Regions from separate parts of the Homo sapiens genome. Here region 1 is linked to region 2. The links come from fine-mapping of genetic effects on plasma protein levels. Region 2 holds a variant in brackets. A gene starts in the other region. All regions are shown on their forward strands. Region 1 holds the start of SIGLEC7 (sialic acid binding Ig like lectin 7). Region 2 overlaps ARSG (arylsulfatase G).

What was found. PIP is the chance, under the fine-mapping model, that this variant and not a neighbour inherited with it causes the effect. The UK Biobank Pharma Proteomics Project read protein levels with antibody pairs (Olink). The fine-mapping took linkage between variants from a reference panel, not from the people measured, so its PIPs are less certain.
Region 1: it holds the start of SIGLEC7, and the variant in region 2 is fine-mapped to the plasma level of the SIGLEC7 protein (UK Biobank, PIP 0.96).

What each region holds. Positions count from the first base shown.
Region 1 is chr19:51,137,248-51,146,367 of GRCh38, forward strand. It overlaps SIGLEC7 (sialic acid binding Ig like lectin 7), which reads left to right and starts at 5,054. Exons shown (of 7, transcript NM_014385.4): 1 at 5,054-5,555; 2 at 7,159-7,437; 3 at 7,665-7,712; 4 at 8,608-8,874. The coding sequence starts at 5,123. It overlaps LOC124904749 (a long non-coding RNA gene), which reads right to left and starts at 3,263. Exons shown (of 3, transcript XR_007067310.1): 1 at 3,177-3,263; 2 at 1,538-1,579.
Region 2 is chr17:68,395,376-68,401,214 of GRCh38, forward strand. The region is part of intron 10 of ARSG (arylsulfatase G); the gene reads left to right. Among named protein-coding and RNA genes, the nearest start is that of MIR635, 26 kb to the right of the region's middle. RefSeq lists an enhancer at 3,433-3,792. The variant A/C (reference allele first, on the strand shown) is at 4,210.

The DNA.
Region 1 (9,120 bases), not on the chromosome of region 2:
ATGGTGCCTCCATCCCCCACCCCCGACTCTTCAGTTATCCCAGTCAGGACCCAGGACTTATTCCAGTTGCCTCCTGTTTTCAACCACCCCATGCATGAGTCAGGGGTTCCTGTAAACTTCACTTCCCCAAAAATGTCTGCCATCATGCCCTTCCTCCTCCCTCCATTCCCTGTCTCCTCCCCTCTATCTGCATGGCCAGGCCCTTTTCGGTCTTGACGATTGCTCCATTTCCCACCCAACATCCCGGTCTGCAGCCTCTCGCCTCCATGCTGTGGCCCTCGCAGCACAAGCCCTGAAAAATTTTCCTGCATCCAGAGCTGACACTGCCTCTTCCCTGCTCAGGGCCCTCTCTGGTTCCCTGGAACCCTCAGTCCAAGCTGTTCAGCTGATCATGTCCCAGCACCTCCAATTTCCCCCTGGAAGACCCCACACATATTTGCAGGGCCCTTCATCTGCCCGGCTGTCTCATGGCCTGTGCTTTTTCCCCTCCACCTGAGGTGCCCTTAGCCACCTGTTAATATGACCAACTCCCCCACTAGTCTCAGCTCAGCCTCTTTCCCTGCGGGGTCTTTCAGCTTTTTGAACTCCTGGATTTGCATTCGTGAGTATGTGTCACACAGTCAGGTGTCTCCTCTTTCTGTTTTTGTGGGGTTGTGGGAGAGACAGCCTCTCAGCTCCACCCTCCCCGCTCTCACTGTTTTCCTCACTCAACCCTGAAGACCCTGAGCAATGGCACCTCGCTTCCTGTCCTGGAGGGTCAGTCCCTGGGCCTGGTCTGTGTGACTGACAGCAACTCCCCCGCCTCACTGAGCTGGTCTCAGGAGGGAAGAACACTGAATCTCTCCCAGCTCTCAGCAACTGGGATCCTGGAGCTGCCCCAGAAAGGGACTGGAGGTGAAGGCGACCTCACCTGTGAGGCTCAGCACCCACTGGGCTCCCAGCACATTTCCCTGAGCCTCTCTGTGCAGAGGGAGCTGCTGGACGGGTGCTGGGGCAGGCAGCCTGGTCAGGTGTTGGGCTGTGAGAGGGGCCTAGACCTAGGAACAAAACCTCACCCTCTTCTCCCCACTCCCAGGAAGTCCCTCTGGGTGCAGATGTGCGAGTGAAGATCAGGAGGGCTCCCAGCCCCTGGTTCTCACCTAATCAAGGGGCGCTCATGGGCACTGGTTTTTCCTTCACCCGTGGCCTCACCTGGGGCTACTACTCCAGGTGAGCAGGGCTGCTCTTTTCTAGGGAAGCCGAGGGATTGGCCCCCGAGTTCCAGATGGGGCTGAGCTGTCCTGTCCCGCCTGAGTTAGAATTGAAGTGGCCGATGCTAATCTGAGGCCGGTGTTGGCTCTACAGGTGTGGAGGCCCCCAGGGGAGCAGGGCTGAGAGGCCTGACTGAGCCCCTCCTGCTCAAGACAGAACTCAGATGAGGACACCCAGCCCTGCGGGACAGATGCAGGACATCACTGTCAGCCATGGCTCAGCCCTTCTGACCACTGAGATGCTGCAACTTCCCCTCCTGGGAGGGAGCGATTGGGCAAACACTTACCCTTTGCTGGAAATCTCAAGGCACAGCACGGGTGCTCACAATCTGAATACAGAACGAATGAATGAATGAATGAATGAATGAATGAAATGTCTTTCCTTATCTCATGTGAGAGACTTGACAGTTCTTTCACTCTCCAAGTAACATCAGCTTCCCCTGTCCCAGCCCAGTCTGTCCTGGGCAGACAAGATTAATTAAGTGGCTCCTGGGCAGACATTGGTGCAGGAGACAGGGCCCAGGAGACCTGTGTGATTTGGGCAATTCGCTTTCTATCTCTGTCCATTCATGCTGCTACAACAAAATACCATAAACTGGCCAGTTTATAAACAACAGAAATTCATTTCTCACAGTTCTGGAGGCTGAGAAGTCCAAGACCAAGGTGCCAGCAGGTTTGGTGTCTGGAGACAGTTTGCTTCCTCATAGATGGTGCCTTTTCCTTATGTTCTCATGTGGTGGAAGGGCTGTGCAAATTCCCCTGGGTCTCTCAGATGAGGGGACTAATCCCATTAGACTAATCCCAGAGTCCTCATAGCCTAATCGCCTCCCAAATCATTATACCTTCTAATACTATCACATGGGGATTCAAATTTCAACAAATGAATTTTGAGGTGACATATTCAGACCATAGCACTTGTCACTGTGGACCTTGATGTCTTCCTCTCCGAACTGTGGAAGTGGGAGTAGAGGGCTTGTCAGCTCCCCTGGGTCATATGTGGTTCACAAGTTCCTCCTTTCTACAGATTCTGTGGCTTCCTTAAGTCTCTCCTTCCCATTTTTTTTTCTGATTTTAATTGCAAACTGGGGACTGTGGGAAAGAGATGGGCCATGGTCTAGCCCTTCTGAGGCAGGAGGAGCATAGACCAATGGGGCAGGAGCATAGCAAAGAGAATTAAAAGTTGGATAAAGGGCAGAATAAGTAAAAGCAGAGAGCAGAAGCAAGGTGAGGGGACGGGTGAGCAAGAAGCAAGAGGCAGAAGTTGAGCAGCCAAAACAAAAAGTAAGATAGAGAAGTGAGCAAGGACACCCGTGGCCAGCAGGATCTGGACCAAACCAGTAAGGGGCAGTTCTTCAGAGCTATGCATGTGCATTAGAGAGAAAAAGTATCCTTAACATGACCCTGTATGATAATCAGCTCATTAAAGTTCATGCATATGGACTGCATATTATCCATGTACTTAAAATTATGGGATGGGTCAAAGTAACTAAGCAACATACTTAACCATCAAAAAGGCAGGCACTGGCCAGGCGCGGTGGCTCACGCCTGTAATCCCAGCACTTTGGGAGGCCAAGGTGGGCGGATCACTTGAGGTCAGGAATTCAGGACCAGCCTGGCCAACCTGGTGAAACCCCATCTCTACTAAAAATACAAAAATTAGCCAGGCATGGTGGCGGGCGCCTGTAGTCCCAGCTACCAGGGAGGCAGAGGCAGAAGAATCGCTTCAACCCAAAAGGTTGAGGTTGCAGTGAGCCAAGATTGTGCCACTGCACTCAAGCTTGGGTGACTTCGTCCCCACCTCACCACCACCCCTTCCCCCCGAAAAAAGGCAGACACTGGATAGAGATTTGGCAGCCTTGGGAAGCGAAGAAAAACAAAAAAACAAACAAACAAACATAAAAAGACCCAAAGTAATGCTGATCTCACCTCATAGAGATCAGTTCGCTCTCCCTCTCCAAGAGTGTGATACTGTGCTTAATAAACTGCTGCTTCTTGCTTTGCTGTCTGTGTGTGTCTCATCCAATTCTTTGTTTAAGACACCAAGAGCCTGGAACTGCATGGCACCATCCGGTAACACTTCTGCCCACTGAGATACTGCAAATATCCTTATGGGGAGAGAGTGGCTGGGCAAGGAGGAGGCGCCCAGGAGGCAGATTGGTCTGCAGGATGAGATACTAGCTGCAAATGCAGGGATTGGAGGTGAGGGCGGGGAGTGGCTTCGGACGCCCAAACCCAGCATCTTCCTCTCTCAATCGTTACAGCCAAATGATCTCTAGGTTATGGACAATTAGGGGACAGTGTGGGCTGAGCAGATCAATGCAGTTGTATGGAAGAAAACAGACTGGGATTTTCTATGTATACAACATCTTCAGGAAAACCTACGTGAAGTTAGAATTTTCAAGGCAGCATGTGCCGATGATAAAACTACATAGAACAGCAGGAAGACTATTATCATTAAAGTGAGGCTAGGGGCTCCTTCAGGAGGGAGCGGGGGCATGGCCAATAGGAAAGGGGAATGTAAGGGTGAATGAATTAATAAAATCTCTTTCTTCATTTCAAGGGACAGACTTGACAGTTCTTTTGTGTTCTAGTTCTTCAAGGGTGCTTATTTTGTGTGAATCACTGAGTTGGTTTTTAGGGGACACTTTTATGTACATGTCTTGTGTTTCTCCCCGCTCAAAAAAAACTGTTTCAAGAAAAGCTGGCCTGGATCTAAGGGGGCTGCAGCTTGCAGGATTTTTCCCACTTCCTCCCAGCCCAGTCACACAGTTTAAAATAATCTTCTGTTGAAGTCAGGTGCGTGTTTCTTCTCTCAGAAAATCGCGCCCATCACTGAGGGTGGACGCCCCGGGGCTGGTGTCTTTGCTCCACGTCTCCTGTTCACCTGAACCCCTAGGAGCAGTTCCTGCAGGAGCAAAGCCCCAGGGCCAGCAGACCCCTCACACTCTGCACTAACCAGGCCTCATGAGATAGCAGTGGTGAAGGGAAATGTCCTTGTGCTCAGAGAGCTGTGAGGATGGGAATAGTGTCTGCTCTTTTCATATTGATCCTTTCCCTTATGACTTTCCTGTCTACCAAGCCCCACAATACAACAATCACAGCCTCAGCTTCCCCGGCCTCCTGCAGGCTGGGCTCCCCTCCGTGTCCTTGGCGTGTATCAACAGGCGCAATCCTCACCTTCACAGCCCCATGTCCGTCTGCTCGGTCCTCCTGAGACTGAACCCCCGACCTAGGGGAGAGTGACCCCACCCTGCCTGTGCCCCCCACTGAAGCTCCTGTCATGGGGAGCTCAAACGTCAGGAGACTCAGTGTCTCCCCACCACACAGTGACTCCTTGGGGACAGTGTCCGGCTCTGCTGTGTTGACCTCATTGTGCAGAAAGGGGGTGCCCACCTCGTGGCTGCTGAGGGAGGGATGAGAGGCTGCCTGTTCACCCCACCTGCACCCCTGTCTCTCATGGCCCCGAGTCCCACTTCTGAGCTACGCAGACATCCACAGCCTGTGACTCAGGGGTCTGGGCAGATGGGAGTTATTTTCACCCTGCAGAAAATATCACCTAAAGGGAAAGGCATTGAGAGGGAGGCAGGAGGTGGGGTGGGCCCTGCATGGGGTGGGAATCTGGGTGAGTCTGTCTCCCGCTCTGGCCTCAGGGACCCAGGAGTGAATGTCGGGTGGTGGACGGTGGATCTCCCAGGGCTGACCCAGCCCTGACAGTGTCTGTGTGTGAAGTTCTTCTTCTAAGGAGGTCACTGTTTTGACCTCACCACCGACTTCCTGTAGGGCCTCTTCTAAGTCTTGAGCCCGCAGTTCCTGAGAGAAGAACCCTGAGGAACAGACGTTCCCTCGCGGCCCTGGCACCTCCAACCCCAGATATGCTGCTGCTGCTGCTGCTGCCCCTGCTCTGGGGGAGGGAGAGGGTGGAAGGACAGAAGAGTAACCGGAAGGATTACTCGCTGACGATGCAGAGTTCCGTGACCGTGCAAGAGGGCATGTGTGTCCATGTGCGCTGCTCCTTCTCCTACCCAGTGGACAGCCAGACTGACTCTGACCCAGTTCATGGCTACTGGTTCCGGGCAGGGAATGATATAAGCTGGAAGGCTCCAGTGGCCACAAACAACCCAGCTTGGGCAGTGCAGGAGGAAACTCGGGACCGATTCCACCTCCTTGGGGACCCACAGACCAAAAATTGCACCCTGAGCATCAGAGATGCCAGAATGAGTGATGCGGGGAGATACTTCTTTCGTATGGAGAAAGGAAATATAAAATGGAATTATAAATATGACCAGCTCTCTGTGAACGTGACAGGTAAGGCACGGGCTCCAAGAGAGGCCAAAGGCAAATGTGATGAGGGCTTTAGGGCACGGCTGAGACGGGACACATGTCCTGGGAGGGGGCCGGGGGTGATGGACTCAGGAGAGGAGCTGGACCAGAGCCTGAGCTTCCCCAGGACCGCACCTTGGATGCCCCTCCTGATCCTGCAGGCCCCTCCCCTCACCAGCCCTGACCCACAGGCCTGACATCCTCATCCTGCCTCTGACGCTGGCATTGTGGCATGTGGGGCCTTATGACTCCTTGTTTTGGGGCCTGTCCTAGGCATGGCCGGGGTTTAGCACCATCCCAGGCCTCTCCCCACCAGATGCCAGAAGCACCCACTCCACCCATGCAGTGAGACAATAACAATTATCTCCACACATTGTTAAACGTCCTGGGGGGTTAAGTCCTCCCCAGTTGAGAGCCTTAGGTCTACACAACCCCGTGACTCTCTCAGGCCAGGCCAGGGAGGAAGCACTTCCTGGCGCAAACCAAGGGCAGCAGAGGCACCTGAGCCTGGACAGGGAGACTCAGCACACGGCCCCTCCATCTCTCATGCCCTGAGGTCCTCGGAGATCCACATTTAGATGCTCAAAAGACAGGAGGGACCTCCACGATGGTCCAGAGGCCGGGAGGGCAGGACCTACGTGTCTGGTGCAGGCCCTGGTGCTCCAGGGAAGCCCGGAGGTAGGAGGTGGGACACGGTCTCTTCTCCTCCCTGGGTGGGTCTCTAGGGTCTCTGAGCTTCAGGGTTTCCTTCACTCTGTGCAGAGGGAACCAGTTCCTATAGCATGTGGGTTTGTAGTTTCTCTTTCGTGCTGGGTTGAGGTCTCCAGCTCCTCTCCAGCCCCTCTCCAGCCCCCTGTGGGTCCCACAGCCCTGCCCCTCCTCTCCCTCCCACTTCTCTGCTCACACAAGGAGCCCAGGAACCCTCTGTCTCAGAGATGCTGCTGCCTCTCTTGTGGGCAAATGAAGAGAGGGACAGTCGGGGCTGGGCTGAGCCTCATTTCCCCACAGCGTCCCAGGCCCCACTGTCAAGATACAGGCTGGAGGTGCTGGAGTTGGTGATGGTGCAGGAGGGCTAGTGCGTCTCTGTGCCCTGCAGTGTCCTTTAACCCTATTACAACTGAACTGACTCTAGCCCTGTCCATGGATGCTGGTTTAAGAAAGGGATCAATATACAATGGAATAATCCAGTGGCCACAAACATCCCAAATGGAAAAGTGCAGGAGACACGGGGCCGATTCCACCTCCTTGGGGACCTGAAGACCAACAACTGCTCCCTGAGCATCAGAGATGCCAGGAAGGGGGATTTGAGGAACTACTACTTCCAGGTGGAGAGAGGACAGATAAGATGGAATTACAAAACGAAGCAGCTCTCTGTGAATGTGACAGATAAGGCACAGGCTCCAGGAGACACCACAGGGAAAGGTCATGGGGGTGGCAGCGAAAGCCTGGGATGGGGCCCCTGCCCTGGGAGAGGGCTGAGGGTGAAGCGAGTTGGGCTCAGGGCAGAAGCTGAACCAGAGCCTGAGCTTCCCCCAGGGCTGTACCATGGATCCTCTGTCCTGATCCTGAGTCCCCCTCTCTTCACCAGCCTTGACCCACAGGCCCAACATCCTTATCCCCGGTACCCTGGAGTCTGGCTGCTTCCAGAATCTGACCTGCTCTGTGCCCTGGGCCTGTGAGCAGGGGACGCCCCCTATGATCTCCTGGATGGGGACCTCTGTGTCCCCCCTGCACCCCTCCACCACCCGCTCCTCAGTGCTCACCCTCATCCCACAGCCCCAGCACCACGGCACCAGCCTCACCTGTCAGGTGACCTTGCCTGGGGCCGGCGTGACCACGAACAGGACCATCCAACTCAATGTGTCCTGTGAGTGCTGAGCCAGGACGCCCTGGTCCCTGATGAGGGGGGGACGTCCCTGAGGGCAGAGGATGGGGTCAGGGCTCGACACTGGGTGCTGGGTCCCAGAATCTGGGCTGGTTGTGGGATCAGGAGGACGCTGGCTCCGCCTTCCCCATTTATGCAGCTCCTGGGGAGACAGGGCCAGTGTCCCCAGCCCTCACAGTGATGCAGGTCTCCATGTCTTTCTGTCCCAGACCCTCCTCAGAACTTGACTGTGACTGTCTTCCAAGGAGAAGGCACAGGTAGGATGGAGCCCCCTCCCTGGGGCTGGGGGAGCAGGGCCTTCAGCTCAGGGCAGGGCCAGGTCCCTCCTCATCCTGGACTCACCCTGGTGATATGAGACTCCCTTGTAGTTGAACCCAGGCCTCCTCCCCATCCTTAGCCTCTGTGGCCACCTGAGCACCTGTCCTCTTCCCCCCACTCCCCTCAGACTCTTGCACACACACCCTCCTCAGCCCTGCAGCCAGGACAGGGGGAAATACATATAGCAGGAGCAGCCTTTGGGCCTCTTATCTTCCATCTCCTGAATATGCCACCTAACTCGTCTTTTTATTTTACCCAATAGTTTTGAGCTACGTTCTTTTGGATACATGCTATAATCACGTGGGCAAAAATTTTAAATTCACAGTAAAATGTGTCCCCAGAATCAACCAGGGTCTGTCCAGGCTGTCCTGAGCCTTGGTTTGTGCACCTGGAAGATCTCAGAGGTGGTTTGATGTCAGCAGTGAGACTGTTTGCACCCTCTTCTAGGGATGTGTGTGATTCCACTGTCTGAATAGTCTCTGATTTTGTGGCATCTCCTAATGGAAGATCATGGCACTAATTTTATCCTACGGCACGAACACTGCAATGAATAATGTTGTATCTACTCCCACAAGGAATATCTAAGTGTATAGGATAAATTCCTAAAAGCACATTTTACCAGTGTCATATGTTCTTTCTGATTTTGAAAGATATGGTGAAGTTGTCCTCAAATAAAGGTGGGCAAGTTTACATTCCCAACAGTGAGCGGTGAACATAAGTATGTCCCTGCACCAGCCTACATCACTCTCTGTTCCATTCCCCAGTCTCATTCTGTATCCTTCCTCCCTGTTTCAATCACTTTGTCTCTTTGAACCTCCAACTTTTTCTCTACAGCATCCACAGCTCTGGGGAACAGCTCATCTCTTTCAGTCCTAGAGGGCCAGTCTCTGCGCTTGGTCTGTGCTGTTGACAGCAATCCCCCTGCCAGGCTGAGCTGGACCTGGAGGAGTCTGACCCTGTACCCCTCACAGCCCTCAAACCCTCTGGTACTGGAGCTGCAAGTGCACCTGGGGGATGAAGGGGAATTCACCTGTCGAGCTCAGAACTCTCTGGGTTCCCAGCACGTTTCCCTGAACCTCTCCCTGCAACAGGAGTACACAGGTGGGTAAGGGAGGGGCTGGAGGAGGAGAACACACCTGCCCCACCCTCATGGGCCACCCACTGCCCCTGAGCTTCAAGGGGGAGCTCAGCTCTGGTCTGTGCTCAGCTGTGAGGCCTGGAACTTCCCTGCAACCCAGGGCACTGCTGTCCTCTTCCTGCCAGGAAAGGTGTGTAAGGCAGGAAGAGGGGAGGAGTGGGTCTTGGAGGGGAGGAGCTGGGGCCTGGACAGGTGTGTTTGGGGAGACA
Region 2 (5,839 bases):
TCAGGAGTTCGAGACCAGCCTGACCAAGATGGTGAAACCTCACCTATACTAAAGATACAAAAATTAGCTGAGCATGGTGGCATGGGCCTGTAGTCCCAGCTACTTGGGAGGCTGAGGCAGCAGAATCGCTTGAACCCGGGAGGCAGAGGTTGCCGCCAGCAAGTGGCTGGTTCAGACCCCAAAAGGTGAAGCATTTGAGATGAGCCTCTTTCTACCCCCAACCCCCAGTCCAGATTTATATTTAACAGTTTGGCTTAGGGTGGGTGTATATAGGTTCTCATTCCCTATAATGGGCAATTTCTTTTCCTGCATGTATTTAATTTAATAACATAGCTACCCAGTATTTTTGTTAGATGAGATGACTGACTAGTGTCTGCAACTTGTTTATTGTGAGCCTCACCCTCTAGAATGGAAGCTTCTTGAGGGCAAGAATCTGAGCTGTTGAGTTGAGCTCCGAGTTCTCACTGCCTGCAGTCAGCCAGCATTTCAGTCCATGCAAACTGGATGAACCAATGAAGGAACAAATGAACAAATGAGTGAAAGACCCTTTGGACAGCAGGTCCAGCAAGGGCCTTACATCCAACATTCTCCCAGCTCCAGAGGGCTCAGCACACTCTTGGCAGCCTGTTTTTTTTTTTTGTTTTTTTTTTTGAGATGGAGTCTTGCTCTGTCACCCAGGCTGGAGTGCAGTGGTGTGATCTCAGCTCACTGCAACCTCCGCCTCCTGGGTTCAAGCGATTCTGCTGCCTCACCCTCCCGAGTACCTGGGACTACACCCTCCCGAGCCCATGCCACCATGCTCAGCTAATTTTTGTATCTTTAGTATAGGTGAGGTTTCACCATCTTGACCAGGCTGGTCTTGAACTCCTGACCTCAAGTGATCAGCCCGCCTTGGTCTCCCAAAGTGCTGGGATTACAGGTGTGAGCCACTGTATCCGACCTGCAGCCTGTTCTTGACCAAGCAGACCTTGGCAATGGCTCTGGGCTTCCACTTCCCAGCATCACCTCCTCAATGTCCCCTGTTTGCACTCTGAAGCACTCATTGGCAGTGACAGCCAGGAAATGTCAGGCCTCATGGCCTTTCCTTGTCTTTTCCCTGTGTTTTCCTTTCACCAAAAGGAAGAGGAAGCAGGAGGAGGCAAGGAGGCGGAAGGAGCACAGAGTCCCCTCTGCAACGCCCTACAAATGCATGGCTTCTTGGTGAGGGACCCACACATCAAAGGGTCTATTTGTGTCTTTGCTAAGGGTCACATGGAAGTGACTCAAATGTACAGAAGTGTCCTGTGGCTGGTAGTTACCAAAGCTGCCCTTCCCACCCAGCCTCCCCCAGCAAACCAGAACATGGGTCTTCTATGGGCCATCGGTTCTTCTGTGCACATTAATGCAGTTTTTAGGGGTTGTTGGATGAAGCCTGAGAGGTGTTCTGAAGTCCTGCTTCTCCCCAGAATATCTGCCCCCTAGAGCTGCAGACCCTTCCAGGCCTAGCCCTTCTCCCTAAGCAGGAGCAGCCAGGCAGGAAGATGGTTTCCGCCTTGAGGTTGGAAGTTAGCAGTATGTGACCCTGGAGGGTTGTCACAGACGTCATTGGAGAGGTGCTCCGGAGTGTTTATTACCATGGCTGCTAGGAATAATTGGGGTCATCAGGAAGTGCTTCAAGGACTGTGCTCTCCTTGACGTTGTCGGTACTGCCTGTGGGAGCCAGCTCCTTCATGTACTAACTTCCTTTCTCAGACGGGAGAGCTCTGCTCTTGCTCTAACTGGAGTTTTGCGCAGGCTCGTAGAGACCCCATCCTAACTAGTGCCCAGCAGGGTTAGGCCCAGGAACCAGATTGGAAAACCAGATACAAGTCACAGCATCGTCACGGGGAGGTATGATGGCGTGGTTAATGCAGCTGGAGTCAGGACTGATTTGCTCCCTAACCACACCCCATGGCCCAGAAAGAAACAGCCATGCTTACTGCTTGTGGGAAGCAGCTGATGGTATCTTCAAGGTTAAGAGCACACGGGGCTGGCACCTGTGGGTCACACTCAGTCTCCCAGAGCATGCCTGCAGTGTCAGTGAAGACACTTGAGATAAGATTCTGAAGTTTGAGGACAACATGGGTAGTTGCTGGACCTGAATTTGGGTTTGGTCTTCTCTAGTCAGTCCTCTCTATCAAAGCAAAGTCATAGACCTAAGGAAATAAGAGTAAATTGTCTCAAATTTGGAATAGCTATGGGGGAGGCTTGAAGGTAAGAATATGAGGAATTATATATATATACACACACACACAATATTCTATACATACTTACATGTATGCATATGTGTGCATACGTCTATACATGTGTGTTATACGTGTGCATGCATATTCTAGACGTGTATGCATATGCATGTTTTGTTTTAATTTAATTTAATTTTATTTTATTTTTTGAGAGGAGTCTCACTCTGTCGCCCAGGCTGGAGTGCAGCGGCACAATCTTGGCTCACTGCAACCTCCACCTCCTGGGTTCAAGCGATTCTCCTGCCTCAGCCTCCCAAGTAGCTGGTATTACAGGCGTTCACCACCACGCCTAGATAATTTTTGTATTTTTAGTAGAGACAGGGTTTCACTGTGTTGGCCAGGCTGGTGTCAAACTCCTGACCTCAGGAGATCTGCCTGCCTCGGTCTCCCAAAGTGCTGGGATTACAGGCGTGAGCCACTGTGCCTGGGCTGCATATGCATGTTTATGTACCATGTATGTATATTCATGTATGCATATCCACATCTGTATACATACATGCATACATATGTATGCATATGCATGCTTATACCACACATGCATACACATGTTCGCATATGCATGTGTCTATATAAACATACATATGCATGCTTATGTTTATACACTATACATGTGTACATATGTATGCCTATGCATGTCTATGCACATATATGTATACACATGCATGCACACACATACATGTATACATATGCATATGTCCAGGCACATAAATAGAGATATACACACATATTTATATGCAGGTGTATGCACATGTATACATACGTGTATATATATGCATATATCAATATACACATACATATGTGTACACAGATGCATATGTCTGTAACATATGCATACATGTGTACATATGTATTTTAAAATAAGCACAATTTGTGTTCACCCTCAGATACATCCTGGGCTTACAAGGATTCCAATATGAGTTGGTTTAGAAACACTTTCAGTTCTAGAAGCTCAAAGTAACTCCTGGATATTCAACTGGGAACAATATGCCAATGCTTCTCAGCAATCCAGTCCTTCCCTATTGCAAACCAAGTAACCAAGAGTTAAGGAGAGGAGCAAGAGAGTTGAGAGGTGTCATGTGCACAATGAGCTCCAGTTCCACACTGGATGGTCTTCTCACAACCCACTCCAGCAACCTCTAGGGACGTTGTCTCTGTGATGTTCGAAACCACATCAGCTGACACCATGCTGCATATTCTTGCATCAGCTCAACCTCCTGCTTCTGATCTTGATGGGTCTGTGTCTAGGCAGTGAGGGGCACCAGGAGAGAGATGAGGGCTGGGAAGGGGAGGGCTGCACAGCCTAGAACCAAAGGTCCCACTTTGTGCTTTCCTGGCTCCCAGATGGAAGCTGAAGGTGGTAACATCATCACTGGTCAGGTCGTGTCTTAGCCCCAGGTTGTCATGATCAGGTCCAGAAATTGTCAACGAAGGAACGTTTCCCCTAACAGCTCTGCATCTGCCCAGCCTCACACAGTCTGGGGCTGCTGTGGGTCATCAAATGCTTGACACGCCCCTGGAGGCCATACATCGAGGAAACAAGCTGAGTTTTAATGTCCAGAAAGAACGCTGATCACTTCTCTTAGGGAGGCCCCTAGTGGCGAGAGATGTCATCTGGCGTGGCTGGCAAACTGACCACCCCCATCCACCCCCTTTGGAGGCTGTAGCTGTGCATCCCCACCTGAATGGAGAAGAAGCCCACCTTCAGGGGATGCTATATCAGCACCCTGTGGGACTTAAGGTAAAGGAATGCTCTCGTGCTTAAAAAACAAAACAAGATAAAATAGAGCAAGAAAGGCCACCAGGAAGGCAAAACAAGTTTGCAGAAGATAAAGTCATCTTTGAAATTTGAACCAGGCATCTGGAGAGCTGTGATTCATGTGTACTTTTGACAGCTTCCTTCCTATATTGATATAAACAAGAAAGCCATAATGGGTCTTCTCAAACAAAC[A/C]AAAAAAATGCATAGACAAGTTCTCCAAAGTCCATCTATGTTTCTGAGAATGAGCCATCCCACAGTTTTGCTTCCTCGTGGATTTTGGAAGTTGCCTCTGGTAACGCCACATAAATAGTGGGAATATAGCAGCCCACCCTCATGGAATTTCTGTGACTGAGACGCAAGTACTGTGACTGATCTGAAGCAGCAACTTCACTCCCATCTTCTGCATGTCCGCGTGCATCGTATATCAGTTGACAATAGATTTTCCAAGTCTCCCACTTCCTGCTGTCTCAAGAAGGAAACAAAACAGTCTCCTGTGGTGAAGAGGCTTGGCTTTCTGCAGGGATGGAAGAAGTGAGGGTTTTCAGTTACGACTTCTTTTCCTGTTTGGAAGGAACCTGCTATCATCATGCGCGCCCTGGGTTTGTGCAGGGATTGTCACGAGAACCTGGAAGCCGCAGGTGTGGGGAGGAGCCCCACCTTGGCGGCATCCTCTCAGAGCTGTGAAACTCCGGGGGACAGCTGTTTACTGCTCCAACAGATGTTTCTCATTTTTTTCTTAAGTCTCGTGTGGAAACTTTGAATCATGTAAGTGCCTTTCCAGCCCTATATACGGTTGTGATTCATACCAAGGCAGTCTCATGCTTTTAGCCCAGACCCACCAACCTACCAAGGACACTGGCCTTTTGTTTTCTTTCACATCCTTCCCTCGAGAACCCTGATTTAGGTGTTTCCATTCTGTACGGTAATTCTTTTATTTGTGACCTGATGAGGAAAGATTTCCTCAGTCCAAATATAGTCGGATTGAGTCATAGCTGTGGGCGTCTGTGACCAGAGTCTGGGCTGTGCCCGATTCTGCGGAAATCAAGGATGCCTTCTTTTGTACCATCCTTGCTCAAGGGAGAGTTGGAACATTGACTTGATGCTGAAGAAGCCTTTCTTCAAAGACAGCTGAGGGTCACCTGCATCAGAACCCTTGGAAATACTTGTAAAACAAGTAAGTCCCCAGGGCCCATCCTGACCCTGAGGGGTTGGAACTCAGGCAGGGTGGCCTTGTGGGCCTGTGACCGGTGCCCCCCACACACAGAGCCCTGCACTTGGAGGGACCCTGTGCTTGGTTTAAAGCTCTGCCGTGGTCATCATGAAATTTTAAGTTTGTGAACAAGGTATCCCTGATTTGCATTTTGTTGTGGACTTTGCAAATTACATAGCAGGTTTCAGGCCTAGAAATCTGACCTACCTAGTGAGACCTTTTGCCTACTCTTCCAGAGTTGTAACCCACTCCCATCAATTAACCAGCAAAATAACAACTTCACAGGCTCCCTGGAGTTGACTGGTGTGGACTCCAGGCTTGTATCTGTCAGTGTGTGTTTGGGCACAGGGATAGGGAGACCAGACCCTGAAAAAGACAGTAATATGTTCCAGGGAGCATCTAGCATCATCTAGCATGTTTTATTTTCTTTTGCTGTTTCGAGACAGGATCTTGCTCTATCACCCAGGCTGGAGTGCAGTGGTATGATCATAGCTCACTGCAGCGTTGACCTCCCAGGCTCAAACAATCCTCTCACCTCAGCTTCCAAGTAGCTAGGACCACAGGTGTGCACCACCATGCCTGGTTAACTTTTGTATTTTTTTGTAGGGAGGG